5 linked regions of the Homo sapiens genome follow. The protein of the gene in region 3 purifies or fractionates together with the protein of the main gene of each other region. This does not show direct contact. Each region holds a gene or a part of one and is shown on either strand. Other genes may lie near its edges. The genes, in order: EIF2D, EIF2AK4, GCN1, ACAT1 and HELLS.

Evidence for each region.
Region 1: the proteins of GCN1 (region 3) and EIF2D fractionate together in Homo sapiens (co-fractionation; one large-scale study listed by BioGRID). This does not show direct contact.
Region 2: the proteins of GCN1 (region 3) and EIF2AK4 purify together in Homo sapiens (affinity purification with western blotting, with the first as the bait; one study listed by BioGRID). This does not show direct contact.
Region 4: the proteins of GCN1 (region 3) and ACAT1 fractionate together in Homo sapiens (co-fractionation; one large-scale study listed by BioGRID). This does not show direct contact.
Region 5: the proteins of GCN1 (region 3) and HELLS fractionate together in Homo sapiens (co-fractionation; one large-scale study listed by BioGRID). This does not show direct contact.

Annotation. Positions count from the first base shown.
Region 1 is NC_000001.11:206,597,564-206,603,773, forward strand, and holds part of EIF2D (eukaryotic translation initiation factor 2D), read right to left. Parts: intron 5,642-6,210; coding exon 5,388-5,641; intron 4,891-5,387; coding exon 4,773-4,890; intron 2,746-4,772; coding exon 2,700-2,745; intron 2,274-2,699; coding exon 2,170-2,273; intron 2,050-2,169; coding exon 1,900-2,049; intron 1,530-1,899; coding exon 1,440-1,529; intron 1-1,439. UniProt on the Homo sapiens protein: Translation initiation factor that is able to deliver tRNA to the P-site of the eukaryotic ribosome in a GTP-independent manner.
Region 2 is NC_000015.10:40,029,104-40,035,313, reverse strand, and holds part of EIF2AK4 (eIF-2-alpha kinase GCN2), read right to left. Parts: intron 5,909-6,210; coding exon 5,850-5,908; intron 4,956-5,849; coding exon 4,858-4,955; intron 3,146-4,857; coding exon 3,077-3,145; intron 2,558-3,076; coding exon 2,513-2,557; intron 989-2,512; coding exon 870-988; intron 288-869; coding exon 230-287; 3' UTR 1-229. UniProt on the Homo sapiens protein: Metabolic-stress sensing protein kinase that phosphorylates the alpha subunit of eukaryotic translation initiation factor 2 (EIF2S1/eIF-2-alpha) in response to low amino acid availability.
Region 3 is NC_000012.12:120,130,929-120,137,138, reverse strand, and holds part of GCN1 (stalled ribosome sensor GCN1), read left to right. Parts: intron 1-406; coding exon 407-637; intron 638-2,412; coding exon 2,413-2,606; intron 2,607-2,733; coding exon 2,734-2,848; intron 2,849-5,116; coding exon 5,117-5,213; intron 5,214-5,805; coding exon 5,806-5,954; intron 5,955-6,210. UniProt on the Homo sapiens protein: Ribosome collision sensor that plays a key role in the RNF14-RNF25 translation quality control pathway, a pathway that takes place when a ribosome has stalled during translation, and which promotes ubiquitination and degradation of translation factors on stalled ribosomes.
Region 4 is NC_000011.10:108,125,408-108,131,617, forward strand, and holds part of ACAT1 (acetyl-CoA acetyltransferase, mitochondrial isoform b precursor), read left to right. Parts: intron 1-2,478; exon of another isoform or gene 2,479-2,572; intron 2,573-3,235; exon of another isoform or gene 3,236-3,452; intron 3,453-3,695; exon of another isoform or gene 3,696-3,794; intron 3,795-6,210. UniProt on the Homo sapiens protein: This is one of the enzymes that catalyzes the last step of the mitochondrial beta-oxidation pathway, an aerobic process breaking down fatty acids into acetyl-CoA.
Region 5 is NC_000010.11:94,568,815-94,575,024, reverse strand, and holds part of HELLS (lymphoid-specific helicase), read right to left. Parts: exon of another isoform or gene 3,638-6,210; coding exon 3,596-3,637; exon of another isoform or gene 1,066-3,595; coding exon 838-1,065; intron 472-837; coding exon 289-471; intron 1-288. UniProt on the Homo sapiens protein: Plays an essential role in normal development and survival. Involved in regulation of the expansion or survival of lymphoid cells. Required for de novo or maintenance DNA methylation. May control silencing of the imprinted CDKN1C gene through DNA methylation.

The sequences.
Region 1 (6,210 bases), on a different chromosome or scaffold from region 3:
CCCAGCACTTTGGGAGGCTGAGGCGGGAGGATCACCTGAGGTCAAAAGTTCAAGACCAGCCTGGCCAACATGGTAAAACCCCATCTCTACTAAAAATAGGGCCGGGCGCAGTGGCCCACGCCTGTAATCCCAGCACTTTGGGACGCCGAGATGGGTGGATCACTTGAGGTCAGGAGTTCAAGACTAGCCTGGCCAACATGGTGAAACCCCGTCTCTACTAAAAATACAAAAATTAGCCGGGCATGGTGGCGCATCCCTGTAATTCCAGCTACTTGGGAGGCTGAGGCAGGAGAATCGCTTGAACCTGGGAGGCAGAGGTTGCAGTGAGCACAGATTGTACCATTGCACTCCAGCCTGGGCAACAAGAGCAAAACTCTGTCTCAAAAATAAAAATAAAACATAAAATAAAATGAAGGTATTAGATTAGGCTGGTATGTCTCAACTTTTTTATCATGATGATGTTTTTTTAAAGTGAAAAAAAAATTTTTTTTTGAGATGGGGTTTCACTGTATCACCCAGGTTGCAGTGCAGTGGCATCATCATTGCTCACTGCAGCCTCAACCTCTTGGGCTCAAGCGATCCTCCCACCTCAACCTCCCAAGTGGCTGAGACTACAGGCATGCCCTACCATGCCCGGCTAATTTTTGTATTTTTTGTAGCGACAGGGTTTCATCATGCTGCTCAGGTGGGTCTCAAACCCCTGGCCTCAAGCAATCCTCCCACCTCAACCTACAAAAATGTTGGGATTACAGACATAAGCCACAGTGTCCGGCCATTAAAGTAAAAAACAATTAATGGAACTCTCTTCATCTGGTAGTTTACCATCTGTATCTCCTTTTAAGAAAATAATACCATAATGGGTACAAATATACAGTTAGATAGAAGAAATAAGTTTAGTCTTTGAGAGCAGAGTAAGGTGACTGTAGTTAACAACAATGTATTGTGTATGTCAAAATAGCTAGAAAAGAGGACTTACAGTGTTCCCGACACATAGAAATGGTAAATACTCAAGGTGATGATACCCCAAATACCCTGCCTTGATCGTTATACACTCTGTGCATGTAACAAAATACCATGCACCCCATAAATATGTACAAATATCTATCAATAAAAATAAATACCTAAAGCTATGATGACTTCAGTAAATTCTTTGTAAGCTTGCATTTTATTCCTCACAATAGCCAATTAAAGATGATTCATGGGTATTTGTGAGAGAATATTTACTTAGTCGGTAGTCAATGTTGATCGTATACATGGATCTGAACACCCCAGACAATAACTGAGTGTCCACAGCCCATGGTTTGGAAACCACTGATCTTAATTACCTCTAAGATGCTATGGTTTTCTATTCTCCCTCCCAGACATCCTCCCCAAATGTGTCTATGTCTGATAAAGACAAAGACCCAATAAGACAGATCTGGTGCTTCTCATGCACTCACTTTTTGTTGTCTGCATCAACCAGGTCATTTTTCTTGGCGTAGTTAATGACGATCGTTCGGACCTCACTGCCCTCCAGAAAGCTCCCCTTCCTAGGTGAGGAGAAGTGACCCAGGGGTTAGTTCATGCTGTGCCATGAGACAAAAATGCAGATGCCCAGACTCACTCCCTGCTGAGCAGGGAACTTTCCTTAGCTTTCGGCCTCTAGTTTCTTCCCTTTTCCTGACTGAAGTGAGCATGACCATGTGAAGAATAATTACACGCAGAAAAGGGTGAGACCTACTCGTTCATTTAGTCCAGAGGAACTTGCCCAGGGAAGAAGGCTGGAAGCTGGATTTTGGAGAAGGGGAGAACAGGGGCAGAGCAGGTTTTGCCAGTCGCAAAAGAGCACTACTCAGGTTGAGAGGAACTGTAGGCCAGAACACCAAGCAGGCAGAGAAGGGCTGCTCTCCAAAAACTCACTTGTGGCCAGACTCCTGGAAGAGCAGGGTCATGCTGGCTGGGACACAGTAGAGGGGTTTTATATCTGGAGGGTGATAGGGCTGTTCCCTGCTACCCTCCTGGATAGTCTGGGAGGTCGGGGAGGGCTCGGGTATGACGAAAGATGTAATCCTAAAACCCAGCAGAAGGAAAGAAAAAACACATTTTATACTAGCATCTCAGCAATCCCCAGTCCGTGGCCCAGGTGCCCTGGGGCCAGCTGGGCTACAGTGACAGGCCCCCTGCACTCACCTCGGGTGTTTCCAGTCCACAGCCACAATGCTCTCCACCCCTTTGCTCAGCTCCTTCACCTGTATAATCTGCTCCTGCTGCATTTGCTGCAGGAACTTAGAGAGCTAAGGGAGAGAGGGCCAGTGGTAGGGGACTTCATTGATTCCACACACATACTGAGCACCCAGGATGTGCCAGAGTGAGCTAGGCAGGGACTGTGCAGGGATATGAGACAGCCCCTGCCTTCATCAACCAGGAACTGGGAGGCCCCCAACCTGAGGGCCAGGGAGCAAGAAGCTGCTAGAGACTAACCAGTGAGGCCGTTCAGAACTCTAATCAGATATAAAGGGGTCAAAGGAGAAAGGAAAGTGGGTGCCACCAACTGCTTCAGCCCAGGGAGAGTTTCTTTCTTCCCCCTTATACTTGGAGTCAAAAAGCTTAATTCTAGACTGAGCCTGGTAGACAAGGCTTCCCCAGCATCCATCTGGCTTATGTCATATGTGCCCCTACACAACTCTCTGCATGGGTCTGCAAAGAAGATCCTTGCTTACCTTTTTGTAGCTTGACTTCTTTATGTCCAGTTGTCGTCCTTCGGGGCTGATGGCAGATGGAAAAGGCAAATTAAACTAATGAGCAGTCATACTGGGACCTGCCTGACACTGAGAGGAGGGCCTTTTTCCTCAGCCTTCCTCCCCCACCTTCAGAGAGAGGCCACTGTGCCAGAACTCTCTGCCCAGGGATGACAGCAGAGAGGGATGCAGACTATGGGACATTCTAAATCAGTGCTGTTCAAGAGAACTTTCCATAGACGTGGAATGTTCTCTGTGTTGTCTAACAGGGCAGCCATTAGCCACATGTGGGTAGTAAGTACTTGAAGTGTGACTAATGTGACCAAGGGAACTGAATTTTAAATTTTATTTACTTTAAATTAATTTAAACTGAAAATAGCGACATGTGGCCAGTGGCTACCACATTGGATACAGCCTTAGATTCCTCCCAGACCAGACAACCTTCTGTGGCCTCCAAAGTTGCAACAGCAAACTCACACTGTGGGCAGCCAGGCCTGGAGTGGGGCCCAGCAAGCCGCATCCTGGGGTCAGGTCTGGCCAACTAATTATCTACTGTCTATGGTCACATTAGTGCTACAATGGCAGCATCGAGCAGTTGCAACAGAGATGGTGTGGCCTGCAAAACTGAAAATATTCATATTTACTATCTGGCCCTTTACAGAAAAACATGCTGACCCCTGCACTACAGCAATTAGTTTTGGAGAGAACATTCCTGATAAAAGCTTACATCTTCTCTCAAAACATGACACGCAATAGCAGTGGATTCTCGAGGAGTCCTTCTAGAATCCACCCCAGAATCCTATCCTACAGAATATTCTGGGGCCCCTTTACCATATATTTGCAACCCAAGAAAGTCAGAACAGATTACCAAGTATCCCTCCACACACTCCAGACACCACATTTGTACAGGATAGCTTAAAGACACCCAAGTATAAATGGGAAGACATTACATTAAGAATCACTTTTTTAAAAAACCACAGCCAGATTCTCAAAAAGAAATAAATTCAGGCCGGACACAGTGGCTCACGCCTGTAATCCCAGCACTACGGGAGGCCGAGGCAGGCGGATCACTTGAGGTTAGGAGTTCAAAACCAGCCTGGGCAACATGGTGATACCCCATCTTTACTAAAAATACAAAAATTAGCTGCACATGGTGGCATGTGCCTGTAATCCCAGCTACTCGGGAAGGCTGAGGCAGGAGAATCTCTTGAACCTGGGAGGCAGGGGTTGCAGTGAGCCGAGATCACGCCACTGTACTCCAGCCTGGGTGACAGAGTGAAACTGTGTCTCAAAACAAAAAATAAATAAATAAATAAATTCAATCTCAGGGTAAAAATCAATAAGCAAACCTCCTGACATGATAGTATTTACTGAATGCTTATTATGGTTCAGGCTATGTAATCTTTACAGCAATCCCATGATTATTAGAAATTAGGACTCAGAGAAGCCCAGTAACAAGCTAAAATGCACATTGCTTGAACACCCTGGAGACCTAGCAGTTGAGTACAGACAGCTCTGTCTTCAAAATCCAGGTTCTATCCACACGCAATAATACCACTCCTGATGGCTTGTGTTTTGGATGGGGTGGGCCGGGACGGGGGGTGTTCACACCAATTCTTCCTCCTAATAAAACCTAATGTGGCCCCCCACATACTTTTCAGAAGTGTGAGGAGGTTGAATGTTCCAGAAGAAGATTCCTGACAAAGAGGCTGCCCTGGGACACTTCCTGCAGAGGACACGCTGCCCGATTTGTGAGGTTGCCCAGAACCCCCACGGCAGAGGCAGTGTTCACAGAATCTCAGGAATTTTAACTTTCCGGTCCTCAATATCCTTTCATTGGCTAAAATTTAAGATTTTGTTTTAACAGCCCAGCAAGCTAAGAATTAACTTTTTAGAACCCAGGAACTAATGTATTTGTCAGATAAGCCTTCCCTCCACTCTTTCCACAGCATGTCCCTCAACCAGTCCCTGCATTGGCCCCATCCTGTCCTACTACCAAGGAGCACACGTGAGACCCCGGCCCCGGCCTCCAGCCCACATCAGTGCTTTCCATACCAGCAGGAGAACATGTGGCTGCCAAGGAAAGTGCTGGTGAGTAAAGGGAGGTCAGCCTTTTTGACTCGGCACTTCAAGGCATGTAAGAAGCATTGCTGTAACAGCTCATCCATTTGTTCTGCAGGGAAAAGACAAGAGCCACATCCTTCCTGAGGGATACAGAACACCTGGTACAAGAAAACGACCCCCAGCTTCATCCCTACCTCACCCACTTGGCTCTGAAAGGAACCCATTCCCAGGTACCAAAGCTCCCAGCCTCTCTTGAGCACTGAGCCTTTAAAGAGGGTTGACCCCAGAGAAGGAGTCAAGCCACAAAGTCCCACCAAGCTAGGAGTGTTCACCCAGAGAAGTTGAGCCAGAAGAAACCTTGGAGGGCTTTGTAGCTGAAGACAGGCAAATGCCAGGGCAGATTAGCTCCCAGGAAGACGTGACTTATGTGGAAAGGATTCAAAAACAAGATGTGAAAGGGCTGCTGCGCCACCCTCACAGAAAATAAGGACCTTCCCCTCCTCCCCCGGAAGCTTAAGGGCCATTCTAGTCAGCAGTGGAGTGGAGTTCGTCAGGCTCCTAAATTGAGAGGTGGGGAGATGGGCTCTTCTCCTCCTAGAGTTATACCTTGAAGCGTTTTGCTATCTGTGGAGTCTTGGTTCAGGCCCCTGGTGCTGGTGTCTTCTGGGGCTTCTGAGAGAGACTTGTCTTCACGTGCCTGGTGAACCTCCCCATTCTCCTCTTCCCCCTCCAGGGTCATGTGCCTCATGTCTCCCTGCAGGGTGGAGTCCATCTGGACAGACCCCTTCTCTTCACTGAGATCTGCTGAATCCAGGGCCAGTGGAGCAATGGAAGGTGGAGAGGACTTGTTTCCAGACCGCCTGGAAAAATCTCATGTCAGAAACATCAAGCAGCAGCTCCAATACTCTCCAGCCCTGGCCACAGAGGAGTCAGCAGTGAGGTCAGAGACAGCAGAGAGCCAACAGGCAGGAGTGGCCAGGAGGGGGCAGAGAGCCTGTGCCCTCATCTCAAGCGTACTTTCAATTCTGGGCCCCTAAAAGTTCCATGCCTCAGTTTCTTCATCTCTGAAATGGGGAGAATAAATCTTGTCTCCTCCCTATCCCAAAAGAATAATACTATTAATAGACATCCCAAGACTGAGAAAGATTAAAGAAAAAGGAGTTTAAGATAAACTCCCAAAAATGTTCCCTTCATCTGAGTTAATAACAAAACCAATTTGAATTAAATATGAACATTAAGATCGCGAATGCATCTGTAATATCTGTTTGGTGAAATGCAAACCCACGGCTCAGCATATGTAATAAAACACAAACACCTGGACTGCTCAAGGACTGCAAAATCAGTGGCTTCTGTGTTACATCAAATGCAGTCTAACGTGGAAAGCAGAGATTGCCATGGTTTTATGCCACTAAGCCTTAGGAAGACAGGA
Region 2 (6,210 bases), on a different chromosome or scaffold from region 3:
AGTTTTTATAGAGATGGGGTCTTGCTTTGTTGCTCAGGCTGGTCTCAAACTCCTGGTTTCAAGCAGTCTTCCTGCCTTGGCTTCCCAAAGTGCTGGGATTAAAGGTGTGAGCCACTGCACCCAGCCTCTTCTTAGAATTTAATTTTAAATTATGATGAATGTACAACATTCCATTATTCCAGTATAAGCCTCTGTCTGTTTGAATGAGGTTAACGACAGTTCTTTAGGGTTAAAATAAGATTCTGTAGTAGTCATCTCTATAGCTGTACAGAAATAGCACAGACACCCTGCAAAAGAAAAGAAAAGATATAAGGACAGACTCAGTTTAATGAGTGAAGAACAGAGCTAATAAATTTTTATAACACCTGTAGGAGCTTTATTTAAGCAAAAACAAGATGGAAGGCTAGTCATTAAAAAATTATATAGGTTTTATACAAGGTGTGACTGACAGGGGTCTGCAGTATAAGGTCCTAGTAAGGAGATAACCATTCACCTCATAGGCTTCCTTGTTGCCTTTTAAGTGTATGATAACATGAATGATTGATTGATTGATTGGCATTATGACATAAGGACATACAGCAAAGTAGTCATGGTTATTTTCTTTGATTTAAACATACTTAGAAAGTGAATTACCTGGGTGAACAAAATTGTAATTGGGACAGCTACTCCTAGGACCCCTGTGTTTTGTTATTGATGAGATCATGACTGTGATTCACAGTCCAAGCAAGATTTATTGGTTGTCAGCTGCAATTCTAAGAACAGCTTACCAGGCGTCAAACCTCAACAAGACAACAAAATAATGTCACTCTGAAACCCCCCGCCCTGAATTTTAACCATGTGAACCCTGCTATGCCCAAGTGATAACTTACTTTTTTTCTACTTTGATGTTATAAATTTCATCACAGACTAATTTGAGGTATCTTTGCTTTGGCAGGCGTGACAGCAGCTGCTTCACAGTTGTGTTAAATGCCTGTTCATCAGCATCCCACTAGGAAAAAAATAGATAAGACTTAACAACAGGTCTCTAGGGTTTACTAGCTGGTTTTTTCTGGGTCACTAATGAAATTCCAGTGTCATTTCCCTCTTCAAGTATACCAGGAGAATCAGTAATAGGGAGATAGCAGAACCAGTTAGGAGACTGCTGGGGTTCCTCTGAAGCACCAGTTTTCCTTAAAACAAGACTCCCTAATTAGAGCCTGATTAACAATGCTGCAGCCCTAGTGTGCTGATGTGACTTTAGAGCAGTTATTTCTGCCTACCGTTTACTTTTTTTTTTTTTTTTTTTGAGATGGAGTTTCGGTCTTGTTGCCCAGGCTGGAGTGCAGTGGCACAATCTCGGCTCACTGCAACCTCCACCTCCTGGGTTCAAGTAATTCTTCTGCCTCAGCCTCCCAAGTAGCTGGGATTACAGGCGCCTGCCACTACGCCCGGCTAATTTTTTGTATTTTTAGTAGAGATGGGGTTTCACCATGTTGGCCAGGCTGGTCTCAAACCCCAGACCTCAGGTGATCCACCCACGTCGGCCTCCCAAAGTGCTGGGATTACAGGCGTGAGCCACTGCACCCGGCCTCTGTTTACTTTTTGTACAACGGTGATAGCAGCTCTTAAGTATATCCATTTGACTGGATCATAAATCAGTACACTGCCAGTGAGATAGTGGTATATGCTTATTTGTAAGAGAACAAAAAATGATATATAAAATACTAGTTCTAGGGCTAAGTTCACTATTAATCTAATTTAATTTGTGACTAAACACTCTGGATAGACAAAAAAGTATTCTTTGATATGACATGTTGCAAAAGTCACCTGTAGCTATGACTATAGTTGAGTGTTCTTAATAGCAAAGATAACTATTCAAATTTTTAAAGTTCTTATTTAGGCTATTTGATGATAAAGGGATGTACCTGTAAAAATATATATATATTTATAAAGGACCTAATTAATTTTTACAAAAGGATTTTGTTTTGTATAGTACTAATCTGCAAATGAGCTTCCCTAGCTGGAATGGAGGTTTGAGAGATAGTATAGTATAGTGGTTAAGAACACCGATTCTGCTAGTCTGCTTAGGTTCAAATCCTGGTTCTACTACTTACTAGCTGGGTGACTGTGGGTAAGATATTTAACCTCTCTACTTCCGTACTCTGTAAAGGGATAATAACAGTATCTACATTTTGGGGTGGTAATGATTAAATGAGTTACTACTTGTAAAATGCTTACAACAAGGCCTGCCAGACCCTGACACATAGTAAAAGCAGTATATGTGTTTTTTTGTTTTTGTTTTTTGTTTTTAATAAAATAAGTATCTGAAAAATAAAGTCACTAGAAAAGTATGAGTCCTTCAACATAGGATTTAGGAACATATATGTTACATAAAAGGAAAAATGTTACTAAATTCCTGCAGCTGCCAGAAAAATACTATCACTAATGAATGCCGTCTTCAGTATTTTGGCAAACTAATAGCAAAGATTTGGGATCTTAAAGGCCACAGTGCAGAAGAGTTCATATTGCTTACCTCTAATGATAAAAACTGTAATATTGTTTCTTTGGGTAGATCCACCTGTGAATACACACAAATGTACATCAACTCTCAGCAGCACAATACTGCCTTGTGACCATAGTGTCACGTGAAATGCAGCAGTATGAATAGGGTTTGCAGAGTCTGAGATGCTATTGTGCTGTAAAAGGGCTTAATGAACTGTGCAGTGATAAGATCTTAGCCCTGGAGAATTAATAAGCAGTGGAAACTGTACTCCCTGTCCCTCTACACCACACCCGAAAGGTCTGACGCTGCTACATGTATTCGGTGTAAGCTTAGCAAGGCAAAGGCCTGATATATGTAGGAAAATGACTTTTGTTTTCATTTTCCTCTATCTTAAAGAGGAACAAAGAGGAGAAACAAAAAACCTTAAATTCTCCCCCTAGTTCTTAATAGTTTTAAATTGCGTGTAGTTCACATCACAATAAGGCCTGCATCCAAATTCTGCTGACACTGAGCAAAAAAGCTCTGAACCCTGAGGCAACTACTTTGACAGTATGGACAGAAGCCACCTTCAAAATACTAAAGAAAGCCACTTACAGCCAGAATTTCAATTTCACTGCTTTTCTGATGTAAGTTGGCAAGGGAGGTCTGAAGTCGAGTTTGTACCTAAATAGTAAGAAAATGGAATTCAGAACATGTTAAACCAAGCCATCTTTCTTGCCATCTTATTTCCTATCCCAGGATACAATCACAGGGTTACATACCAAAGCCTAGAAAGGATTCCAAATGGTGTCTAAAGGTTTGCCCTTGGCTGGGTACGATGGCTCATGCCCGTAATCCCAGCACTTTGGGAGGCCAAGGCTGGGGGATCACCTGAGGTCAGGAGTTTGAGACCAGCTTGGCCAACATGGTGAAACCCCGTCTCTACTGAAAATAGAAAAATTAGCAGGGCATGGTGGCCGGCGCTTATAATACTAGCTATTCGGGAGGCTGAGGCAGGAGAATCGCTTGAACATGGGAGGCAGAGGTTGTGGTGAGCTGATGTTGCACCACTGCACTCCAGCCTGGGTGACAGAGTGAGACTCTGTCTCAAAAAAAAAAAAGAAGATTTGCTCTTAATCCACTCAGAAAGGGGTGTCTAGCAATATGATCTCAGGGGAAATGAGGTTTTTATAACTTATCTTGACCATTTGTTTAATAATCCTTGTCAATTATCTCTTCATAATTTTGAAATGATTCCTTATAAAGGCGTAGCGCAGTGAAACAGTGCACACAGAGACAGAGAGATGATAGTATGAAGCTAAATTGGGAAAAAGGGAGAGGTGGCAGCAATGAGGACATGGTGTGAGAACTGAAACTTGGTAGGTGATGAAGGCAGTAGGAAGACGGGAAAAATAGGTTTCCACCCAAATCCTGAGAAACAGCTAGAAGAGCTTACAAAAATAAAGTACCTGATTTTTGTATTTCAGTCTGATTACATTTCTAAAATTGACTGCTCTCTTTTAACACTCACTCTTTTGCATATGTCCACAGCATACTCTAACATTCATATTCTATAAATTTAACTCAGTGTTCTACTGTAGTTATTTTATTTTGAGACAAAGTCTTGCTCTGTTGCCCAGGCTGTAGTGTAGTGCCATGATCTTGGCTCACTGCAATCTCTGCCTCCCCAGTTCAAGCAATTCTCCTGTCTCAGCCTCCCGAGTGGCTGGGATTACAGGCGTTTGCCACCACGCTTGGCTAATTTTTGTATTTTTAGTAGAGACAGGGTTTCACCATGTTGGCCAGGGTGGTCTCGAACTCCTGACCTCAAGTGATCCGCCCTCCTCGGCCTCCCAAAGTGCTGGGATTACAGGCATAAGCCACCGCACCTGGCCTATATTTATTTGCTTTTATTATTCTCTATATAATGCATATGCTTCTAAGTTATAAACTCTTTTGAGGACTGGGGCCATGTTAATGTTTTCTACATTTTACACAGCCCTTAGCACACCAGTAGGCATATAGCAAATGCCGAAACCATGTATGGAATGAGAAGCCTGCCTTAAGTCTTGTCATCGGCCTCTTCTACTTTGCTATTTAGAGCACAAACAAACCTCAACTACCTTTAGAGCCAGATTAGATAGTTTTCATTTAGATGCAGTCACTCTGACAACAGCTGCCTTGAGGTGCCCACAGTGCACAATGGCCCCTCTCTGAAGGACAGATGGGAATCCTGGAGCCAGAAGCCACCCAGTTAGGCAAGTTGGAAGAAAAATTTTTTTCTTGGAAAAAATATTTCCAAGAAATTCCATGTTTATCTTATTTTCCTTTCCTGTTGTTGTTTTTCTCTTCTGTAACTCATATTAGAAAGCCAAAGAAACCCTGACCCAGTGTACCTGAGTTTCATAGCGCCTCCTAGTGCTGGCTGACAGCTTCTCCGGGGCTAGCACACTCACAATGGGAACCACTGTTGCTCCATGGATTTCAAACAAACCTGAGACCAAGAGAGTTTCAGAATTTATGGCCTTATCTGGTCCCACTTTCTACAACATACTACAGAGAGATGGCAGAGTTTATTAGTAGACATCCTGTCGTGATTCTAAGGGCTAGATCACGACTGGGCTGTGTTTTCTATCCCTACAACCATCTGCACCGGATAGGTGAGGAGCCCAGAACCCCAACACCCAGCAGTTTTGATGCTTCTCTCCTCAGGCAGGGGTTGGGGGGTGGTGGAAGGGGCAGGGAGGCAACAGGAGTCATCAAAACCTCAGGGGCCTAAGAAAATCAAGCTGAATATCACCAAACCTGCATACTTCTTTAAATTCCTGCAAGAATTGGAAATCTGATGGCAACACAAAGTTAGTGCTAACAGAAGAGAATGGGAAAGACTCAATTCTGTTAAAAGCCAAATATGTCTTCTCATGGCCTTAATTGGAACACTTCTTTAAAAAAGAAGTAAGGTTGCTAGAGGTGATGAAAGCAAAGGCATAACTATCACCACTGTGCCCTCTTGGCTTTCACGAAAACAAAATGTGTATAGTGTCCTTCTTCAAGGGATTTCAAAATACTTCCTTCAATCCTCTGTATGAGGAAAATCTCCAGGAAAATTATACACATTTCACTTGTACAATAAATTGAGTAAAAGGAAGATTAAATCACTTGTAAAAATAAGAGATAGAGTAGAAGAGTCAGCTAAATTCCAGTTGTTTTATCCTTTTCTAGGATGTGGATTTCAAAGCATAGGGATGCATCCCATGTGGTACAATTTATTGCGTATATGTTATTTTAAAAATAGATTTCCAGTGTCACAAGCAGTTAGCTACAGTAATAAGTGCTTAGAGCAAACATATAAGCATCATTATGTTCAGATTATAATTAGTAATTATACCTGAAGCATTAGAAAATGACCCCTTCAGATTTTGCACTGCAAGATTATCGGAAGCTTCTCTAAAAACAAGCAAACAAAAACAATTAAAGAACAGTCAATAAGGCACAAGCAACACATAACTTACAGTGAACTACATGTATAGTGAGCCACTTTTCCATTAAATATAAAAACATCTTCTTGGTTATTGGTGGAAAAACAAAAACAAAAAATTTGCATTTAGTTATGCTTTGGTCAAGAGCAAGTAAAAATTATAAAGGATGTCTTTTTAAGTTAACAAATGCCTAAGGAAAACATTCTGATTTATTCAGCTGGGCGTGAAATCCTGGATCCACACAATAAGCTGATTTCAATGAAATATAAT
Region 3 (6,210 bases):
TGTCCCAGGTCTGCGGTAGGGGCTGCTGGAGCAGTAGCCGTGGTGGTTGGTGTTCAGCACCTTCGCAGACAGCATGTTTTCTTCCATGGCAGTCAGATGGGGACAGGGTTCATGCTGCCTTTGGTTTAAGCTCTGCAGGTCACCTTGGCCAGAGTGAGTGGGCCACAGGGTAACAGCAGTGCATGTTCTCTCTGTGTGATAGGCCTGTTGGGGCCCTTGTCGTCTTTTCTCTGCCAAGACCGTTCCATAGCCAGCCCTCTCAGGCTGTGATCCTGAGATTCAGCCCAAATCAATATCTCCCATGGAGTTGAGGGGAGGACAGCTGTCAGGACCACTTTGCTTGCATGGGAGACACCAGGGCCCAGGGTGTTTGAGATTTGACTCTCAGTTGTGGTTCTCTTGTCAGGGAGTGACCTCCATCCTTCCAGTGTTGCGGGAAGGAGTCCTGACTGGCAGCCCTGAGCAGAAGGAGGAGGCAGCCAAAGCCTTAGGCTTGGTAATCCGCCTGACCTCGGCTGACGCCCTGAGGCCCTCCGTGGTCAGCATCACTGGCCCTCTGATCCGCATCCTGGGGGACAGGTTCAGCTGGAATGTGAAGGCGGCTCTGCTCGAGACACTCAGCCTCTTGTTGGCTAAGGTGAGTGGCTGATGAGTTTGTTCAGATCTTAGAGAACAGGTCTGTCTGCAGGAGCCTGATACAAGGTGTCATGTAGCAGCAGGGCAACAGATTTATTGTGGAGAGCCGCATAGCAGAGGGAGGTAAGACCTTGGACTTCAGACATGCTACACCATGGGTCAATTCCAAGTCGTCCTTACTAGCTCTGTGACCAGGATGACCTTGGGAAAGCCATATAACCTAAGCCTGTTTCCTCACCTACAATGTGAGACTAATAATACCAGCTGCCTCATGAAGGGCTGCTAGATATGGGGATTAGATGAGGTTATGTCCAGCATGATGCCTGCTACATACTAAGCACTCAGTACATGTGAAATGCTATTATTTTGAAAAACTACTTTTTCAAAGGAAAAAATTCAGGACCACGTAAATACAAGGAAAACATTGTTTAAAGATATTGCAGTTTTTGTTTTTTTTTGTTTTTTGTTTTGTTTTGTTTTGTTTTTGAGACAGAGTCTAACTCTGTCACCCAGAGCTGGAGTGCAGTGGCGCGATCTCGGCTCACTGCAACCTCCGCCTCCTGGGTTCAAGCAATTCTTCTGCCTCAGCCTCCCAAGTAGCTGGGATTACAGGTGTCTGCCACTACACCTGGCTAATTTTTTTGTATTTTTAGTAGAGACAGGGTTTCACCAGGCTGGTCTCGAACTCCTGACCTCGCACAGCTCAGATTTACCAGCTCCCCCTATCCCCTTTGTGTGCCTGCCACAGCCTGCACACCCACCCAACTCCAGTATTTCCAGACCTTCATTGGCACTGAACCTCCAAACAGTCACTCTGGTTTTCCTAATTAACAATAAGTAAGCCGGGCGTGGTGGCTCAAGCCTGTAATCCCAGCACTTTGGGAGGCCGAGGTGGGCAGATTACCTGAGGTCGGGAGTTCGAGACCAGCCTGACCAACATGGAGAAACCCTGTCTCTACTGAAAATACAAAATTAGCCGGGCATTGTGGCGGGTGCCTGTAATCCCAGCTACTCAGGAGGCTGAGGCAGGAGAATTGCTTAAACCCGGGAGGCGGAGGTTGCAGTGAGCTGAGATCGCGCCTTGCACTCCAGCCTGGGCAACAAGAGCGAAACTCCGTCTCAAAAAAAAAACAAAACAAAAAACAGTAAGTAAATCTTTACTCTTGGACCCACCTGTATTGTATCAAAAGTGTGCCTGTGTTTCTGTATAGTCAGGGGTTGAACTGGATTTTTAGTTAGGTGGGTACACATTTGTGCAGGGAGGATTCTCCAAGGTCATTTGTTTCACAGGCTTGTTCTGAGGGCTGAATGTGGAGTGCGTATCCTGCTGTCAGTTGCTCAGTAGATGGGCTCTGCAATTATACACTGAGTCCCTTTCCCTGTCTTGGCATTAGAACTGTGCTTCAGTACTGCCGATAGTCTGCCCTGCTTGTTAATGTATTCAGAGGAGGATTTGAGTCACTTATCGATATGGACAGGTCTCCACTAAGCCAAACCCCAACGCAGCCAAGGCTGCGAGACAGCTCCCTCAGATAGCGGCCGCCGCCTCCTCGGCCTCCTGCTCCTCCAGTGTATCAAAGCATGCTGGATATGACCAGGAGGCCAAGCGAAACCTGTCTGTGTTTGGCCTCTCTGACGGGCTATCTGTCCCCAGCCCTGTATGAGAGCTGGACTCGCTGTGGTGGTTTGGGATTGTCATTTGTTCTCATGCCTGTGGTACACTGTGGCTTTGGGTCTACCACAACTGTCTTTCATGGATGTGGGTTCCTCCCACAGGTTGGGATTGCCCTGAAGCCCTTCCTGCCCCAGCTGCAGACCACTTTCACCAAAGCCCTGCAGGACTCCAACCGGGGGGTGCGCCTGAAGGCCGCAGATGCTCTGGGGAAGCTCATTTCCATCCACATTAAGGTGGACCCCCTCTTCACAGAGCTGCTCAATGGCATCCGCGCCATGGAGGACCCAGGTGTCAGGTACGGCGCTGGCAAGGGAGCACTGTGGCCTCCAGGAGGCCAGGGGTTGCTGTGGGCCGAGCCTGCGCTGGCAGGAGGGGTGGTGGTGGAGGCACCCAGGGCTTAAGGCGGTGCATTGCTTCTGCAGGGACACCATGCTGCAGGCCCTGAGGTTTGTGATTCAGGGAGCAGGGGCCAAAGTGGATGCCGTCATCCGGAAAAACATCGTCTCACTCCTGCTGAGCATGCTGGGACACGATGAGGTACGGCTGCAGGCAGGACTAGTGGCAGCACTGGACCACTGGTTTCCCTCCTCCTCCTTAGGTTGAGTTCTTCACTTTGTGTTAGAACCAGTACAGCTCAGTAGTAATAAGCATTCCTGACATTTCTATCACCCTGTATGCTTCACCAACATTTCCTCGGGTTTCAAGGGAAACGGGGCAGGTATTGTGGATATATTGGTTATTTCCGTTTGTTTGTTTGTTTTTTGGCTGAGTCTTGCTGTGTCACCCAGGCCGGAGTGAAGTGGCACAATCTCGGCTCACTGCAGCCTCCGCCTCCTATCAAGCGATTCTCCTGCCTCGGTCTCCCGAGTAGCTGGGATTACAGGTGTCCGCCACCATACCCAGCTAATACTTGTACTTTTAGTAGAGATAGGGTTTCACCATGTTGGTCAGTCTGGTCTCAAACTCCTGACCTCAGGTGATCCACCCGCCTCGGGCTCCGAAAGTGCTGGGATTAACAGGCATGAGCCACCGCGCCCGGCCGGTTATTTCTATTTTATAGATGAGGCAAGTAAGCTTTGTAGAGACCCAGACCTCTCACCTATTTGCTCTCTGATCTTAAAGAAGTCACTTTCTCTGTCTGCCTCTCATTTCCACTTTTGTAAAATGAAGAGGTTTATTTATTGTTTTGTGAAACATTTGCCGAGCTAAAGGGCCTATCCCAGAGGTGCATAGACCTCGTGGTCACAGACCTCAAGAAACTTAGTGTGTAGTGGGATAAATGGTCTCCAGGGTGTGTCCCGGTGGCAAGTCTTAGAGGTCTATTTTCGAGGGTGAGACTTGTCTGGGCCATACCCAGCAAGTAGTAGAGTCCAAACCAGAAGCCCTGGACTCCTGGTTCTGTCCCAGTTCCATCAGCCTCACCTAGTCTGGAAGCATCTGTCAAATATTTGGCTGCGAGCACTGTGGGGCCAGTAGGGAGTTGAGTCTATGGAGAAGAGTTTTCTGTTCCCTTTTCAGACAGCCCTCTGTTGTGGTCTAATTTACTTTGTAGGGCCAATCTAGGAGGAGAGGGCCTTTGGGCTCACATGGTTTTACACGTCATTGACACACACACACACCCACACACACTCCTCCTGCCCACACCTGCAACACACACACTTGCTGCTGCACTTCCCATGGCTCCAAAGGCCTAGTTCTGGTCCCCAGGCGCCAGCTGTCGGACTCCAGCCCCAGCCTTCTCTGTGGGGACAGACAGGAAAGTCTGCTGTCTTGGTCACAGTCTTTCAGGGCTTCTACAGAGTCATGTGTACAGTGCAAGCAAAAGTTAGTATTGAAACATATTTGCATTTTACCACAGTGCAGCTTAAAATAGATGAAGTTGGAGAGAGTCGGTGTCAGAGCCAGCTTTAGCTTGGCACCTGGGCTTCTGCTTCGAGCTCAGAGGCCCAAACTGCTGGCAGTCCATTCTCTTACCCTCTGAACCTCCACTCAGATTGAAGGTGGCAGTTCAGGGTGCCAGCCTGGCATTAGCTTTTTGGGTTATTGAGTCCCTGGTTGGTGGTTTGTTTTGGGGACATGTTGAGTTGGCACCTGTAATAAGGAACATAACTTAAAATCCTCTCTTGGTATTCCATAGTTAGCTGGCCAGGGAGGAGCACGGAGCCGCTCGCGTACCTGGCTCTGATTTGAACAGGAAGTGCTTGCCTTTCCTTATCTTCCTTGGCTTGATTAGTGGCTTTAGTTTGACTTCCTAGGATGAACCCAAGTAATTTCGGTGGCAGTGGGGCACTCATGCAGTAGGGAGATAGCAGGAGTCATTCTGGCCACAAGATGACACAAACTCTGTGGGAGAAAGGAGCTCAGAGTGGCCGTCTCTAGCCGGCTTCCCTGGTGGCTGGGGGCAGGTGCCTCCCCTCCTGCCCCTCCCGCCCCTCCCTGCCTCACAGGGCTGTTGATAGTAATTGAGATAATAAATATGAAACATTCAGCCTTCCTAAGAAGAAAGATGCTATGTAAATACAGTTATTACTGCTATTACAAGGATGATTACCATATGCATACACACTGGGGTTTTCTATAATTAAGTGAAGTGCTGGCTGTGTAATGTTTAACTCCATACCAGTGGCAGCCCAATCTGGCAGGGGAGCACGAGTGCCTACAGGAAGGACTGGATCTTGAGTCTCTGAGTTGGCTTTTCCACCTTCTTTGTTGCTGTCCATCCTGGGCTCTAGAGCTGCCTGCCTTGGTTCCCACACAGCTGGTGTTGTTCCCTGCACCCCCTCACTCCCTTCTCTTCCCTGTCAGGACAACACTCGCATCTCCTCAGCCGGGTGCCTAGGGGAACTGTGTGCCTTTTTGACTGAAGAGGAGCTTAGTGCCGTTCTACAGCAGTGCTTGCTGGGTAAGTACACTGGAGAGTTCCCCTTCAGGGACCTGGGCCTCTCAGCCCTAGCGAAGAGTCGACGGGCATCTCCCTCCCTCCCTCAGAGGATCTTTTAGCAACTGGACTGTCCTTTCCTTGGGAATCCAGCAGTTAAAGCAAAATCCAGGCCAGGGGTGGTGGCACTCACCTGTAGTCCCAGCTACTCAGGAGGCTGAGGTGGGAGGATCAGTTGAGCCCAAGAGTTGAAGGTTGCAGTGAGCCTTGATCACGCCCCTGCACTCTAGCCTGGGCGACAGAGCGAGGCCCTGTCTCTAAAACAAACAAACAATACTGAATTTGCAGTGGTCCCGTAGCCCTGAGTGTCTCTGCTCAAAGAACACAGCTGTAAGCCCGGAGTGGTTCATGAGCAGGCTTTCCTTACTTTCCTTAATGTGCCACTTTGGGGAGCTTCTGCCAAGATAGCAGGGAGGTCCATGTGAATGTGGCCTGGAGTTTTCCTTGTGCTCTGGGTCAGCACACTGGTCTCCAGCGGGGTGGGCCCATGGGCCTCATGGGTGCTGGGGACATGCTGTAAAATACCGGTTGATCCCAGTCGTGTCCTTCCACCCAGCGGACGTGTCCGGCATTGACTGGATGGTTCGGCACGGGCGGAGCCTGGCACTTTCCGTGGCTGTGAATGTGGCTCCTGGCAGACTTTGTGCCGGCAGATATAGCAGTGATGTTCAGGAAATGATCCTGAGCAGTGCCACGGCGGACAGGGTAAGGCATTCGGGCCATATCCCATAGGCATAGGCCACATCCCATAGGCAGCACCTTGTGGACACAGCGCGGGTGGACCCCAGACTGGGGCTTAAGAAGCTTGGGTCTAATTTTACCTTTGTCAGTAACTTGCTGTGCCCTTGGACCAGCACTTGATCCCTTTGGGCCCCAGTTTCATCATCTAAACAAGGAATTTGGGTTGAAGAATCTAGATGCCCCTTCTGGGTCAGGTCTTGGATCCCTGTTCCTGGGAACC
Region 4 (6,210 bases), on a different chromosome or scaffold from region 3:
AGTCATAGGGATGTAACAGTGAGCAAGAGACACCATCCCGCCATCAGGAAGCCTGTATTATGTTGGAGGGGTGGATAATAAAACAAAGATGTGAACCACATACTTACAGTGTAAGAGGTGCTTTGAAGGAAATAAAGATATTCATATAAAAGAGAGGAAAAAGTAGAGGGTAACTTTAAATAGAGTAGTTAGGGTGGACCACTCTGGGAATGTGTCATTAGAAAAGACATGAAGAATAGGCTGGGTGTGGTGGCTCACGCCTGTAATCCCAGCACTTTGGGAGGCTGAGGCGGGCAGATCACCAGGTCAGGAGATCGAGACTATCCTGGCTAACAAGGTGAAACCCTGTCTCTATAAAAATGCAGAAAATTAGCCAGGCGTGGTGGCGGGCGCTTGTAGTCCCAGCTACCTGGAAGGCTGAGGCAGGAGAATGGCGTGAACCTGGGAGGCGGAGCTTGCAGTGAGCCGAGATCGCGCCACTGCACTCCAGTCTGGGTGACAAAGTGAGACTCCGTCTAAAAAAAAAAAAAAAGAAAAGACATGAAGAATAAAAATGAGCCAGCCATGGAGAGCTGGGAAGACTTTTTGTTTTGTTTTGTTTTTGATTTTTTTGGAGACAGGATCACACTCTGTTGCACAGGCTAGAGGGCAGCGGCGCGATCTCGGCTCACTGAAACTTCTGCCTCCTGGATTCAAGCGATTCTCCCACCTCAACCTCCCAAGTAGCTGGGACTACAGGTGCCCACCCCCACACCTGGCTAATTTTTGTATTTTTAGTAGACACGGGGTTTCACCATGTTGGCCAGGCTGGTCTCAAACTTCTAATCTCAAGTGATCCACCTGCCTCGGCCTCCCAAAGGGCTGGGATTATAGGCATGAGCCACTAGGCCCGGCCTGAGGAGACTATTACTGGCAGAGGCACACTGCAGAGACCTTGAGGTATCGGGATAGGGTTTAGAACAAAGAGATGCCAGTGGCTGGCACAGAGCAAGAGTGATGTAAATTTGGAGAGAAAACCTAGAGCCAGATCATGCAGGTTCTTGGAGGATGAGGTAAAGAATTTGTATATAATTCCAAGAGCAATGAAAAGCTGTTAAATTATTTTAAGCAGTAGAGTGATATGATCTGATTTACATTTTTCAAAGCTGGAGGGACTGTAGAGAGGTGTCAGGGGAGGCAGGGAACTAGGTAGAAGGCCATTAATAGGAACAAGAGATGGTGGCTTGGACTAGGTGGCAGCAGTAGACATGAGGCAGAGTGGACGAATTTAGTTATGTTTTGGACGCTGTTCACAGTATCTGGATTTTAGGGATTGCAATAAAGGGAAGGATGAAGGATGATTTTGGCTTGAGCACCTGAGAATACCGGCAACAAACAGGTTTTCTTTTTTTTTTTTTTTTTTTTGAGATGGAGTCTTCTCTGTCACCCAGGCTGGAGTGCAATGGCGCAATCTCAGCTCACTGCAACCTCCACCTCCCGGGTTTAAGCAGTTCTCTTGCCTTAGCCTCTGGAGTAGCTGGGATTACAGGCGCGTGCCACCATGCCCTGTTATTTTTTTATTTTATTTTATTTTTATTTTTTTGTATTTTTGGTAGAGACGGGGTTTCAGCATGTTGGCCAGGCTGGTCTGGAACTCCTGACCTCGTGATCCGCCCCCCTCGGCCTCCCAAACTGCTGGGATTACAGGGGTGAGCCACTGCACCTGGCCACAAACAGGTTTTCTAGGGTTGGAAATTGAGAGCTATGATTTGGACATTCACCTGCAGCTGTCAGGTTGGCGCTTGGGTGTGAGTCTGGTGGTCAGTTGAAAGGTCAGGGTTGGAGATAGAAATTTGGAAAATCATCAGCACATAGAAGCCTTTTTTTTTTTTTTTTGAGACAGAGTCTCACTCTGTCACCCAGGCTGGAGTGCAGTGGCGTGATCTTGGCTTACTGCAAGCTCCACTTCCCGGGTTCACACCATTCTCCCACCTCAGCCTCCCAAATAGCTAGGGCTACAGGTGCCCGCCACCACGCCTGGCTAATTTTGTTTTTGTATTTTTAGTAGATATGGGGTTTCACCGTGTTAGCCAGGATGGTCTCTATCTCCCGACCTCGTGATCTGCCTGCCTTGGCCTCCCAAAGTGCTGGGATTACAGGCGTGAGCCACTGTGCCCGGCCTCATAAATGCTTTTTAAAGCCATGGGACTGGATATAACTAAGGATATAGTGAAGTTAAATTAAAAGAGGCCTGGAACAAAGCCCTGGGACATTCAGCACTTGGAGGTTGGAAGGGGAAGATGAGATAGTAAAGGAGACTGAGGTAAATATGACTAATGAGGTAGGAAGGAGTCCACGTTTGTAATGGAAGCCAAGACAAGGAAGGGTTTCTGCAGTGGATTATACATATTACCTCATTTTATTCTCATAACAGCCTGTGGAGGGTATTTAAGAAAACCAAGGTAAGTGTGTCTAAGTAACTTGCTCAAAAATACTCAGCTTGCAGGGCACAGTGGCTCACGCCTGTAATCCCAGCACTTTGGAAGGCCAACGCAGGAGGATCGCTTGAGCCCAGGAGTTTGAGACCAGCTTGGTAAGATAGTGAGACTCTGTCTCTACAAAACAAACAAACAAAGAATACTGAGCTGGTAAGCCCAGGCTCTTAACTGCTCAGCATATTTCTCAAAGAAAGGTGAGCCCAGTCTTGCTGATGTGTTAAAAGGTTAAGTGAGACAATTATAGCGAGTTGGATTTTGCTACACAGACATTGCTGATGTTGCTCAGAACCAACAGTGGTAAACTGGCAGAAATAAAATCCTGATCTGAGTGGGTTGAACTGTAAAGAGGAGGTGAGGACAAGCAAATAGACACTGTAGGTAACCTGGAGAACCTTTCTTGCCAAAGAGAACTAAAGTAAGGTGAGGCCATGTGCAGTGGCTCATGCCTGTAATCCCAGCACTTTGGGAGGCCGAGGCAGGCGGATCACCTGAGGTCAGGAGTTCAAAATCAGCCTGGCCAACGTGGTGAAACCCTGTCTCTACTAAAAATACAAAAATTAGCCGGGCGTGGTGGCGCATGCCTGTAGTCCCAGGTACTCGGGAGGCTGAGGCAGGAGAATTGCTTGAACCTGGGAGGCAGAGGTTGCAGTGAGCTGAGATCGCACCACTGCACTCCAGCCTTTTTTCAAAAAGAAATGAGGTGAAAGCTCGGGAATGTGGGTCAAGAGACATTTATTTGTTTTTACTTTGTTTTTTAGGTGGGGGGAATCAGATCCTGTTTGTATGCTTATGGAATTATCCAGAAGTAAAAGGGGTGAATGATGTAGAGGAGAAGGAAGGGATAACTGTGCCATCTTTGAAAAGGCAACTGGAAATGGGATCCAGAGTAAAGTGGAGAGAACCAGGGAAGATTCCATTAAACTGGACCAGAAGCTTGAAAGAAGAGAAGTGGCTTAGTAAACAAGGAACAAACTAGCTAAGTAGAAAGGGGACTTTTAAAATTTAATTTTTATTTCAATAGGCTTTTGGGAACAGGTGGTGTTGGATTATATGAATAAGTTCTTTATTGGTGGTATCTGATATTTTGGTGCACCCATCACCTGAGCAGTATACACTGTAAACCAATGTGTAGTCTTTTATTCCTCACCCCCACCCCCCGCCTTTCCCCTGAGTCCCCAAAGTCCACTGTATCATTCTTATGCCTTTGTGTCCTCATAGCGCAGCTCCCACTTATGAGTGAGAACATAAGCTGTTTGGTGTTTCCATTCCTGAGTTACTTCACTTAGAATAATAGTCTCCAATTCCATCCAGGTTGCAGTGAGTGCCATTATTTCATTCCTTGTTACGGCTGAGTAGTATTCCATGGTATATATACCACATTTGCTTTATCCACTTGTTGATTGATGGGCATTTGGGCTGGTTCCATATTTTTGCAATTGCAAATTGTGCTGCTATGAACATGCGTGTGCAAGTGTCTTTTTCGTGTAACGACTTTTTTTTTTGAGATGGAGTCTTGCTCTGTCGCCCAGGCTGGAATGCAGTGGCGTGATCTCGGCTCACTGCAACTTCTGCCTCCTGGGTTCAAGCGATTCTCCTGCTTCAGCTTCCCGAGTAGCTGGGATTACAGACGTGTGCCACCACGTCCAGCTAATTTTTGTATTTTTAGTAGAGTTGGGGTTTCACCATGTTGGCCAGGCTGGTCTTGAACTCCCGACCTCATTATCCGCCCGCCTCAGCCTCCTAAAGTGCTGGGATTAAAGGCATGAGCCACTGTGCCTGGCCTTCATATAATGACTTCTTTTCCTCTGGGTAGATACCCAGTAGTGGAATTGCTGGATCAAATGGTAGTTCTAGTTTTAGTTCTTTAAGGAGTCTTCAGAAAGGGGACTTTTTGAAGAGATACAATGGGCAAGCACTAGGACATCCAAGGATAGGAAATAAAGTGCAGCTGGCTGGGTACAGGGATGTGTGCCTGTAGTCGCAGATACTTGGGAGGCTGAGGCAGGAGGATTGCTTGAGTCCAGGAGTTCTGGTTTATTTTTTATTTTTATATATGAAAATTTTCAAACAAAATAAATTGCAACTGACCCTGCCAGAACCCAAGCTAGAAAATCACTAACCAAAGCCATCTTTTGCCTCTTGTGGTGTGCCATGGTCTATTTCTCCTGTCTCTGAGTATATATGTTGCATTCTTTTGCTTCTCAGTGTATTCATGGCTTTTCTCTTTGTTCTAACCGCTGCTTTTCTGTGGCATTGGCTGGTCAGCTCCAGCCCCTTTTGACTTTTCAGTCCCAGTCCCCACCGTCATCCAACTGACCCAGTCTCTCTGGGTCCTAGCTTGGGTGAGTCCATTCCATTCTTGATCCCATCAGCTCTGGCCAGAGGCAGGGGAGTCACCTTGTAAGTACTTAGGGTTGTCCTTTGAGAAAGACATGTGTTTGGAGAGGCAGTGACCGGCATGTTTACTACAAGTAGGAACTTTTTTTTTTGTAAGTTTTTAAATTATTATTTTTTAAATTTATTATCATTTTTTGAGACTCGCTCTGTCGCCCAGGCTGGAGTACAGTGGCGTGATCTTGGCTCACTGCAAGCTCTGCCTCCCAGGTTCAAGTGATTCTCCTGCCTCAGACTCCTGAGTAGCTGGGCTTACATGCATGGACCACCACACCCAGCTAACTTTTATATTTCTAGTAGAGACGGGGTTTGACCATGTTGGTCAGGCTGGTCTTGAACTCCTGTCCTCATGATCCACCCGCCTCGGCCTCCAAAGTGCTGGGATTACAGGCATGAGCCACTGCGCCCAGCTACTGATAGTCTAATTTCAGATCAGTAGGTCTCTGAATTGTGTCCTGCGTTGTCAGAATTAATTAATTAATCTATTTATTATGGAGTTTCACTCTTGTCTCCCAGGCTGGAGTGCAGTGGCGTGATCTTGGCTCACTGCAACCTCCGCCTCCTGGGTTCAAGCAATTCTTCTGCCTCATCCTCCTGAGTGGCTGGGATTACAGGTGCCCGCTACCACGCCTGGCTAATTTTTGTATTTTTAGTAGAGACGGGGTTTTTTCGCCAAGTTGGCCAGGCTGATCTCTAACTCCTGACCTCCAGTGATATGCCCACCGCAGCCTTCCAAAGTGTTGGGATTACAGGCGTGAGCCACTTGCCCAGCCTACTGTTGACATTTGTTCCTAAGAAGTGTGGAAAGAACTGAGAAGTAGTAGGGGCAAGATGTTTACTCTTTCCTTTTTTAAGAAATAATTTATCTGCTATTATAGGTCATATTTATATGAGATGTGTTTGCCTCATATAAATCAGACAATTGTTGGAAGTGGATAGGGAGAAACAGCAAGTTTTACTTGAAAACAATCTTAAAAAATGAAAATATCTTGTTAGATTCTAAGACTAAATAATTTAGAACCTAGCTTTAACTCAAAACTACATTTTAGAAAGCTATATTTAAGAAAGACTTGGAATTTTTTTTTTTTTTTTTTAGACAGTCTTGCTTTGTTGCCAAGGCTGGAGTGTAGTCCCAGAATCTTGGCTCACTGCAACCTCCGCCTCCTGGGTTCAAGCTATTCTCCTGCCTCAGCCTCTGAAGTAGCTGGGATTATAGGCATGTGCCACAATGCTGGGCTAACTTTTGTATTTTTAGTAGAGACTGGGTCTCACCACGTTGTCCAGGCTGGTCTTGAACTCCTGACCTCAGGTGATCCGTCCACCTTGGCCTCCCAAAATG
Region 5 (6,210 bases), on a different chromosome or scaffold from region 3:
AAGCAGAATTTTTAATAAAATCTCTACCTAAGTCTGTCTCAGTCGAATCAAATTACCAATGCACTGAAAATCATTCAGGAATATTTTAGGAAAGATGTCAGGGATTTCCAAAACCTATACTATATAAATTTAAATTAGGGTATTGTGCAGATTGAGTAAGTCAAATCAGACAAAATATTTATACAGAAACCAATATAATTATAAGAGTTCTACAATTTAATTCCTACTACAACAAAGCATAAGAAAACATGTAAAATTATAATTTTAACATAAGGAAGCATGTCTTACATCTGGTGTAAATCTTTTGAATTCAGCCATCCAGTTAGGAAGTGTAGACAAAGGGCCACAGACAAGAAAAGGTCCTGGTACTCCTCTCTGAATCATCAATGCAATAGTAGCAATGCACTGAACTGTCTTACCCAATCCCATTTCATCTGCTAAAATGCCATTAATTCCATTTTCCCAAAGCATCTGGACAAAATAATAGATACTGTATTTAAACTTGGATATAAACAACTACAGGATTACAATATTTTATTTCTTCTCTTTAAAAAATCACACCCAAAGATGAGAATTATGTTAAAGCTGATATATTCACACCATAAATTATAACAACACTGGAAAGTCCTTTATCAAAGCCATAAAAGTGCTGGAAGCCATTAACAAGGTAATTTCTACTTCTAAAAATTCAGGGTAAAGAAATCAGAAAGCAAGTATCCACATACAAATGTATAATAGTGAAACATGATAGAAATGACTCAAGTTGTGGTACCTCAAATCATTAGGCTACTATAGAAATAAAACCAGTATCTTGTATTAAAAATTCCAATTCATTACCCTAAGCCATTCCATGCCTTCTACTTGGTACCATCGCATCACTCCTCCAGTGAAGTGCTTTGGTTGTTGAAAAGGTACTGGCTGACCATTACACTTCCGGACTGGGTCAAAAAAGAATTTAGTATTCTGCCTAACCGTTTCAGACAATCTATCTTTAATTATACTATTCGAATCTTTATTTTTCTGAAGATCTTCCACACAGAGATTAGTAGAGGAGGAGTTTTCATCCTGTAGAGAAAAAAAGTTTAATAAGATGTGTTATACAAAATGCTGCTGTATGCCACCATTTATCAGAAAATGCAACTAACAAAATCTACTGAGTCCTATAATCATTAAGTATAGAAGACTAAGATCACACCTGGATTAAAAAACTGGAGACATCGCCATCCCTCTACAAATGAAAAGCTACTAAAAAAAAAAATAACAGGCTGCCACAGTGGCTAATCCTACAATCACAGCACTTTGGGAAGCTGAGGCAGGAGGATCACCTGAGTCCAGGTATCCAAGACAACCCTGGACAACATGGCGAAACCCTGTGTCTACTAAAAATACAAAAAATTAGCTGGGTGTGGTTGCACGCAACTGCCTGTATCCCAGCTACTCGGGAGGCTGAGGATCACTTAAACCCAGGAAGTCAAGGCTGCAGTGAGCCATGAACACAGCCACTGCACTCCAGCCTGGGTGACAGAAGACTCCATCTCAAAAAATAAAATAAAATAAAATAAAATAAAATATAAAAATCTGAGAATAACCCTTACAAATTAAAATCAGGCACATACTTTTGAAAAGATCATTAGAATTGTATCTCTCTTCCAAACTTCTAATATTGTGATACTCAATAATTTATTAAACTGTTACACAGAAAATACAGTACGCATAAATAAGACGGGCAAAAGATATTAACAGATACTTTACAAAAGAAAACATACAGGCCGGGCATGGTGGCTCACGCCTGTAATCCCAGCATTTTGGGAGGCCAAGGCAGGCAGATCATGAGGTCAAGTGATCAAAACCATCCTGGCCAAAATGGTGACACACTGTCTCTACTAAAAATACAAAAATTAGCTGAACATGGTGGCATGAGCCTGTTGTCCCAGCTACTTGGGAGGCTGAGGCAGGAGAATCGCTTGAACCTGGGAGGCAGAGTTTACAGTGAGCCGAGATCGTGCCATTGCACTCCAGCCTGGGCGACAGAGTGACACTCCATCTCAAAAAAGAAAAAAAAAGAAAGAAAACATAGTTATCAAAGAACATAAAAATATACTCTACTTCAGTAGTAATTAGGAAAATGCAAGTTAAAAACCACACAAGTTACCATTTCTCATCTAATAAAATGGCTGAAATTAAAAAGACTATCAAATGCTGACAATAATGTAAGCTGGAGTTTTCAAACATTGCTGGCGAGAGAATAAAATGATGTGTTTACTTTGGGGGGGAAAATCTGTACTTTCTTATGAACACACATTTGCCACGTAACACAACAATACCATTCCCAGGTACACAGGCAGAAAGTATGAAAACATGTCTACACATGGACTTGTGTGCAAATTATCATAGCAACCTTACTCATAAAAGTCACAAACTGCAAACAACCCAAATGCCCATCAATAAGGGGATGGATGAGAAAATTGTAACATTCATTCAACAGAATACTAGTCAATAAGAAGAAACCGGTTACTAATATGCTCAACAACATAAATGAGTATCACAGACATGTTGAGTGGAAAGGAAATAATAAGCCATCCTATAAAAGGTGTAAAAAGTGGCCTCCTCTGGGTTTGGGGGTGGAAAGACATAGAAGAGATCCCTTTACAATGGAAATGTTCTATACCTTGATTTGGATGGTGGTTACACAAGTGTATGCAAGTGTCGAAATTCATTAAAATACCATACTTAACAACTATTTCTTACTGACTGTAAGTTATAAAATGAAGCCAAAATCCCATAGTAAATTACAGAAGATTACATCTAGACTTTATCTTAAAAATCCAACTAAATGTTTATCTAACTAAATCTTTAAAAATCCAACTAAACTGCACCCATAAACCAGTCCTTAATAACTTAACAAAGAATAAAAACCAAGACACTTTTACAATATAAATTTTGGACAAAATTATATGACCAAATAGATTATCTCTCATTTTATAAACATAACATTAATTTCCCAAAGGCCTAAAAATCTTTAATATGTAAATTAACTACCTGAAGTTCATATCCATTCATGAATATTTTCATGTCATGATTATTTTGCTTCCCTAGGCAACCTTGTAATTTTAAGTACTTGAACAATAAAAAGTCAGATAACAAGGAACCTCTCTACATGAAATGGGCTAAGTGAAGAGGTGGCTCGGAAATCAAGCCTTCTCAAACAGAACTTTTAAGAAACTTAAAAAATCTTTAAGGTCTGAAGCAAGATTAAGGCATCCCTCACAGCTTCCATAAGATGATTCACGGTTTATATCCACATGGTTACGAGCACTTGTATCACTGCCAGATTCACAAGTTAAAAGCAACATTGCTAGACCCATAAATTAACATTTATACATCAAGAATCATGCAATAAAACAACTAACTAAAGTTGATACATAAAAAAGAAGAATGTTGGATATGGAAGAAGTGAATACATAGGTATTTTTTTTTAAAGCAAAGAAACAGGATAATAGTGAGAAGAACGTATACTGCTGATTAAAGAAAAAGGACTAGTAACTGAGGAGTAAATATGACTTCTAAACTTAATCTTACATTATAAATTTCTTACCTCATTCTCCTTTTTATTTTTTTTAGCCACAGACAAAATTTCCTAGTAGTTTGAGAAAACAAAAACAAATTAATAATGTATGAAGTTCATTTATTTATTTATTCAACAAGCATTTATTCTGTGCTCATTTTGCCAGGAAATGAGGATGAGATTCTCAAGATAAAACTAGTAGCCTTCAGGCAGAAATAAGCCTATAGACATTACTGGCTCATAATATTTCATAACATTCTAGGCTAATTTGGGAACACTTATACAATGGGATATTTCATCAAATACAGTGATTTTCCAGCTTTTCTTTCTTTTAATCTGAGTAGATTAAGTACAAATTCACACATGGCAACAAACCTCTAGTCCTGGGGTCAGCAAACTACAGCCTGTAGACCAACTCCAGCTAAGCGAATACACAGGTATTTTTTTAAAAGCAAAGAAATGGGATAAATTGGAACAAAGTCAGCCTCACTTGTTTACGGTTTGTCTATGGCTGCTTTCAAGCAACAACAGCAGAGTACAGGGTTGAGTAGTTGCCCACAAAACTACTCAAAAGCTAAAAATATTTACTATCTGGCTATTTACAGAAAAAGTTTGCCAAACCATGTTACAGCCCACTTTAGGCCTCTGTGGATAGACATCTGAGTTTGCATTCCTGGGTAAGAGGCAAAGACAGAAAAAATTAAAAATACAGAATAAAGTGCTCTGATTTTGAAGTACCTACTAGATGCTGCTGGTAGGGAGACAAACAATACCCGAGTATGTCACTGGATGACTTAGCAAATAATTATCTTACATAAAATTATCTAAAAAGTTGTCACCAGGCTTCATCATTCAAGATAGTGAGGGTAGATTTCAAGCAGAGAGAATATAGAAGGCATAGGGGATGAAGTAGATTCAAAACAGCAATATCAAATTTAAGATTCATAGAAGAGTAACAGGACATGTAAGTGGCTGACACACACACATATATATACATGGGAATATATGTATATCGTGTGTGTATGAAGTATTATGTATGTATAGATATTCATATTATAAGGCTGAGGCTAAAAGGATTTTATACCAGGAACTGATAAAAGCTGTCCTGTAAAATGACTAGATAAAATGAAACTTTTGAAAGAACAATTTGGAAATAAATCAAAATCTATAAATACCACCAATGAAGTATTCTTATTAAAAATCAAGCATGGGCAACATGGTGAGATCCCATCTCTACAAAAAATATAAATGTTGGCTGGGCTTGGTGGTACACGCCTGTAGTCCCAGCTACTCAGGAGGATGAGGTGGGAGGATTGCTTGAGCCCAGCAATCAGAGGTTCAATGAGCCGAGATGGCACCACTGCACTCCACCCTGGGCAACAGAGAAAGATCTTGTCTCCCAAAAAAAAATAAAAATAAAAAAAAAAATAAAAAAACACCTTAATCACAAACTTCCGTATTTAACTTATAGTTACTATAGTTAACAGGAAACACAAGAGGCAGAGAAATCATGGGGATACAATCAGTAAAGTCTAGAATGTGGGGAATTATACAGAATTACTCATTTTCTTCAACAAATAATGTTTCTTAAAAAAGATGAGAGACACTCTAGATCTAAAAGAGACCCAAGATACGCATTAATCAAACACAATTTATGTAACTTTTTCGGATCCTGATTTGAACCAACTATTTTTTTAAAATGTATGAGCTAAGCAGATCACAGCGGTAAGTGCCTATAGTCCCTGCACTACTACTCGGGACACTGAGGCAGGAGGATCATGTGAGCCCAGGTGTTTGAGGTGTAGTCACTATGACAATACTCAGGAATAGCCACTGCACTCCAGTCTCGTCAATACAGCAAGCCCCCATCCCTAAAAATAAAAATTAGCCTATTGAGAAATTTAAATATTAAGGAATTCCCATCGACTTTCAAAAGTGTGGTAACTGTATTGTGGTTATGGTTCTAAAAAATAGTCTTGGCCGGGCATGGTGGCTCAAGCCTGTAATCCCAGCACTTTGGGAGGCCAAGTCAGGCAAATCACAAGGTCAGGAGTTTGAGACCAGCCTGGCCAACATGGTGAAACCCTGTCTCTACTAAAAATACAAAAAATTAGCTGGGCGTGGTGGTGGGCACTTGTAATCCCAGCTACTTGGGAGGCTGAGACAGGAGACTCACTTGAACCCAAGAGGCAAAGGTTGTAGTGAGCCGAGATCATGCCACTGCACTCCAGCCCAGGTGACAGTGCGAGACTCCACCTTAAGAAAAAAAAAAAGTCTTGCTGAGCTTTTTGTTAAAATATCCCAGAATTAAAAAGCGATTGGCTGGGCGTGGTGGCTTATGCCTCTAATCCCAGCACTTTGGGAGGCCGAGGCGGGCGGGTCACCTGAGGTCAGGAGTTCAAGACCAGCCTGACCAACATGGAGAAACCCCATCTCTGATAAAACTAAAAATTAGCCGAGCATGATGGCACATGCCTGTAATCCCAGCTACTCGGGAGGATGAGGCAGGAGAATCGCTTGAACCTGAGAGGCGGATGTTGCTGTGAGCCAAGATCATGCCACTGCACTCCAGCCTGGGCAACAAGAGTGAAACTCTATCTCAAAAAAAAAAAAAGTGATAAAGGTGGACATTCAATTTACTATCC